2 separate regions of the Homo sapiens genome follow, and region 2 is linked to region 1. Evidence: fine-mapped expression QTL. Tissue or cell type: lung. Region 1 holds a variant in brackets; the other region holds the start of a gene. All regions are shown on one strand. Distances are from middle to middle.

Region 1 (2,500 bases):
TTGGATCGAGTTGGTGTTCCAGGCAAAATATCAATGAATGCAAATTAATACAGCACCTCCTTGCTGTGGTTGAAAAAATTATTCAGTTATACTTGCTAAAGCAAGATGAGGCTGACTTGATTCAGACCTTACTCACGATTTATACCATCTCAATAGATACAGGTGTAGGGAGAGCGATGGGAGCTCAGCTTTGAATACACTGCAGGTAAGTAGGAATTTCTAGCAAAGGAGCAGGGTGGGAGTCCATGGATAGAAAATTACTTAGAGGGGACATCAGGGGTTGGGGGATTCTAGCTAAACCAACTTCAAGATTCTAGCTGGAAGCAGGTTAGGGTAATCAGACATCCCCTGCGGGATGGTGGAGGATGGAGACCCTGATGAGAATCTTTGGCTAAGCAAAGAATCTGGCAACATTCCCTTTCTCAGAAGGCTCTTCCCCAGGTAGCTGCATCTAGTTGCAGGGTCCTCACTTCCTTCCTTCCACTCAAATGCCCCCAGGCTGGTCCCTTCTCAGCAATGGCCTTCCCTCATATTCATTTGTATACTAATGTCTGTGTGTTCGTTGTCTTCCTGACTAGAAGGTAAACTCCCTGAGGTCAGGCACTGGATTTGAGTTCCCTTAGAACTGAGCCTAGCACAGGGCAGGCGCTTCTGAGTATTTCCTGCAGTGCACAACTGGCTCTTGACAAGGGAGGCTGGTTGTTCTGAATGTTGTTGGGAGGTAGTTTCGCTCTAGCATAAGCCTTCCACGTGGAGCCCCTGAAGGATAACACAAAAGCGTCAGGACTGCCCCAGCGCAGAAGGGTCCCAATGGAGCCAATTCTTTCATTTGGAAACCTCACTTTTGGGTCTCCAAAATTAAAGATGGGGCACAGGCTTATGGGCTGGGCGGGCGGGCAGCTGGCTTCTGTGGCTCCTGCACCCCTAACACTGGCTCCACGGGGAGGTGCTGTGACTCCCTGCTGCTGTTCCGATGTGGAAAAATCTGAAAAATTAAGTAACTTGGTCACCCGGCCAGGGCCAGATGAGTCCCCAGAGTCTTGCTGTC[C/G]CCAACATGGAGATTGTGCCACCTGCATCTAGTTTGGCACAAGGGGAAGAGCAGATAAGGACCAGCGTACGGGTCTGGGCTGAACCTCCCCCAGGGTTCACTAGGGGATCCGGCAGTGGGGAGGGAGCTGGGTTGGCGAGTTCAACTTTGTGACCCCTCGGGAGCCCTAGGCCCCTACCCTGTGAGGAGCAGGAGGTCCTGGAAGAAACCCAACCCGACCTCTGCAGAATGGAGCTAGCGAGGAACAAATGCAGTCACCCCGCCCCAGGCTTTCCCCTGCATCCCTGGCACCTGTTAGGGTCAAGAGGGGCTTTTGGGCTCTAAAAGAAAGATCTCTTTTTAAAAATTTTCACGTATGTTTATGCTCAATTTAAAACAAAGAAAAGCGGAGGGGAGGGAGGCAGGGGGAGAAATAACTCTTGTAACCCATTTCCATCGCCATCTGTTCACGTTTCTCTTTGACCTAAGAACATTTTCCCCCTGGTTTGACAGCCCTGTGCTCTAAATAGGATAGGGCCCTGGGGTTTCTCTCCCTTGTTGTCCCTTCCAGCCCCTGCCTGTTCCGGAGTTAGTTCTCATTATCAGCAACTCGCACACAGCCAGGAACGTTCTAGAGCAATTTTCCACATGATCTCCTTTTGGCGGAAAATAGAATTCGCTTCCTTTCCAAAAGTCATTAAACTAAAAACTATATAAACATGAAAAGGAGGAGAGAGAAATGGGAAGACAGAGAAAAATAAAAATGCCTCCCGCCTCGGCCCCTCAAAGTGTTGGGATTACAGGTGTGTCGGTTGTCTGGATGATGGGTCTTCAGGTTTTTGGGGTTTTTTTCTATTTTTCTGACTTCCAAGTAAAACATCTACCCGCATTACAGGATAGTCATAAACCATTAAGAGGAACATTTTTTTTTTCCAACTGCCCCATGTCAATGCTTTGAACAAATGAAACTGGTGACCTCATACGTCAGCAGGCGACCGTGGAGGAAGGCGGTAGCTGGCAGGACACCAGCGTTTCCATGTCTGCCTGAGAGTCCACGGCTGCTCCATTTGTACAACTCACAATACAAATAGGTCCAAGGGTGACAATTTTTTTCTAAGCCCAGGAGAAATCAGAATTTGGGTAAGGAAGATTTGAACAATTTTGAAAAACACAATTAACTTAAAAATAGCCGCAATCTTGCATTTGGGAAATCTGTACTCTTGGGGGCCTGAAAAATCTCCCTCTCTTCGCAGTCATGTTTTGGTTTTTCCTCCTGTGGCCATTTCTAGGGACAGTGGTCACCTTTCTCAGACCCAAGTCTGGGGAAAGTCTGAGACTCAGGCTCACCGCAGCTGGTCTGGCCCCCATTGGGCGTGGGTTATGGCAGCCCCGGGAAACTCTCTTGGATTTCCCACTCACACCCAGCACTGGGGGACCCTGTTTCGTGTGAGGTTGTCTTCCCTCTCTCTGGTC
Region 2 (2,620 bases), 220 kb before region 1:
GTTTTTTGGTTGGTCCAAAAAATTCCCAGCAGTCCAGGGATCTCTGTGGAGTTCTCAGTGAGTGTTCTGTGTAGGGTGCAGGAGCCACAAGTGACTGCAGGGGGAAAGGGGGGTTCTGGTGCTGGCATTCTGCAGCAGTGGGATTGTCCTCTGTCATAAAGAAAGAGAAGGCCGAGCGCGGTGGCTCATACCTGTAATCCCAGCACTTTGGGAGGCCGAGGCAGGCGGATTATTTGAGGTCAGGAGTTCGAGACCAGCCTGGCCAACATGGCGAAACCCCGTCTCTACTAAAAATACAATTAGTCGGGCCTGGTGGCACATGCCTGTAATCACAGCTACTCAGGAGGCTGAGGCAGGACAATCGCTTGAACCCGGGAGGCGGAGGTTTCAGTGAGCCGAGATCGGGCCACTGCACTCCAGCCTGGGCAACAAGAGCGAAACTCGTCTCCAATAAATAAATAAAATCCAAAACGCTGGGACTTGAAGTGCCCTCCTTTCAATCTTGACCCAGGTAAAACTCAGGACAAATAAAAAGAAGTAGAAGCAGTAAACTTAGGACATACAGCATGTAAAGGTTCTGAACGCAGGAGTAAATGACTTCAAATAGCTTTTGTGGCCTTTCGCCAAGGACCGGGCCCTCCCTGGCAAGCTGGGGCCGGGTCTGACCTTCCAGGTTGGCGTCAGCAAGGACCACCCTGCCCTTCAGTGGCCGGACACGACCTTGGGCTTTCGTGCAGTAGCCTGGCTGCAGGCCAGGTCGAGTCCGCCACCCCGGGGACTTGCACCGCCCTTCAGAAACCGAAACCTGCTCGGCCCCAGGAGGCGGACCGGGAGAAGGGGGGGGGGTGTGTGTGTCTCGGGACGGGGGCGTGGTCTAGAGGCGGGGGCAGGGGAGGAGCCTCGGGTGGACGCGCGTGCGCAGGCCGGAGCCTCGGGAGGAGGCCGGGTACCCGGGGTGCGGCGCGCGCGGGAGGAAGGCGGGGCCTCGGGCGAGGGGCGGGGCCTCGGGCCGGGGGCAGGGGGCGGGCGCAGGCGCAGGCGCGGGCGGGCGGGGCGCGGGGCGCGGGGCGCCGGGGGCGGGGCTCCGAGCCGGGCTGAGGCGAGCGGGGGCGCGGGTGGCGCGGCGGGACGCGAGCGGCGAGCCGGAGCGCGGAGCCCGGCTCCCGCACCATGGAGGAGGACGACAGCTACGGTCAGTGCGCCCCGGCGGCGGACGCTTCCCCCTCGCTGTCCCCCAGTCCCCTCCGGGCCCGGCCGTCCGGCAGCGCTTGCGGCGGCTGGCGTTTCCCGGGGACACTGGTGCGGGACGCGGAGCCCGGGGCGACCGGCGGGCGAGCGGTGCGCGGGGCCCTCGCGGGGCGGGGGTCGCAGGGGGTTTTGAGGGATGAGGGTCGCCGGGGCCGGGGTCGCTGGCGGCGCTGAGGGATGTGGGTGGCTGGGGCGGGGGTCACAGGCCGGGCTCGCGGTCTCGCGGGGCCAGGGGTCGCCGCGAGCTCTGAGGAATGAGGGTCGTTGGGGTCGCGGGGCAGGATCTCAGGGGCTCTGAGGGATGAGAGTCGTTGGGGTCGCTGGGGTCCCCGGGGCAGGGGTCGCAGTCCGGGTCCCGGGGGGCCGAGGGGTGGAGGTCGCTGGCCCTGCCGCCCCTCTGCGGGGCTCGGGGCGGACGCGCGGATGGCCGGGCCCGCGTTCCCCGCAGTTTCCGGCCGCTCTCGGCGTCAGCGAGTTGTGCCCGGTCCACGTCTTTGTTCAGAAATGAGAACGGGGAGCGGCGCCGCCGGCGAGGCGCGGGCTCCGGGACGGCCCTGCCCGCGGGAGTCTGGGCCCGGTAGCCGCCGGTCCGGTGCGTCGCCGCCTGCCGAGACGCGGGTGTGGAGCCCGAGGGGCACCGCGGTGGGGACGCCGCTCCTCCCCTGACTGGGGACTTGGCAAGCGGAGCCGCTGTCCCGCTCCCTTCGCTCCCGCGCGTTGAGGCTGCTGGCCCAGGCCAGGGGTGCCTCCCTCCAAGAGTTTGAAATTGCAAGGGTTGCAAAAGGTTGTTTGACATGCTGTAGTTAATTTATTAAGTTTGTTCATGAGGAATTAAAAGGAAGAATGGCAAATAGAACAAGTGGTGAACTTTTGTGGTTTGGTAGCAAAGTACAAATAAAGCAGAACTCTGTGGCCAAATGGAACCCAATTCTAGTTTAATAACTAATGGGACATTTTTCTTTTTTTTTTTTTTTTAAGAGACGAGATCTCGCTCTGTCACCCAGGCTGGAGCACAGTGGCGTGATCGTAGCTCACGTCAGCCTCTTGAGTGGCTGGAACCATACGCACGCCACCATGCCCGGCTAATTTTTTATTTTATTTTATTTTATTATTTTATTTTATTTTATTTTATTTTTGAAACGGAGTCTCACTCTGTCGCCCAGGCTGTAGTGCAGTGGCGCCATCTCGGCTCACTGCAACCTCGGCCTCCTGGGTGAGCTGAGCGATTCTCCTGCCTCAGGCTCCTGAGTAGCTGGGACTACAGGCGCGTGCCACCACGCCTGTCTAATTGTTGTATTTTTAGTAGAGACAGGGTTTTGCCATGTTGGCCAGGCTGGTCTTGAACTTCTGACCTCAGGTGATCCACCCGCCT

Direction of the effects. Positions count from the first base shown, and alleles are read on the strand shown. Sizes are in standard deviations (SD) of each study's normalised expression.
For the expression in lung of the gene that starts at base 1,121 in region 2, allele C in region 1 goes with a lower level than allele G (small effect, 0.36 SD a copy in GTEx).

What was found. PIP is the estimated chance that this variant, and not a neighbour inherited with it, causes the effect.
Region 2: CYTH1 starts here. The variant in region 1 is fine-mapped to the expression of CYTH1 in lung (GTEx, PIP 0.99).

The regions. Positions count from the first base shown.
Region 1 is chr17:78,562,860-78,565,359 of GRCh38, reverse strand. All of the region lies in intron 11 of DNAH17 (dynein axonemal heavy chain 17), which reads left to right. Among named protein-coding and RNA genes, the nearest start is that of DNAH17, 13 kb to the left of the region's middle. The variant C/G (reference allele first, on the strand shown) is at 1,049.
Region 2 is chr17:78,780,774-78,783,393 of GRCh38, reverse strand. CYTH1 (cytohesin 1) reads left to right here and starts at 1,121. Exons shown (of 14, transcript NM_004762.6): 1 at 1,121-1,192. The coding sequence starts at 1,171. RefSeq lists silencers at 862-1,021, 1,062-1,341, 1,602-2,001.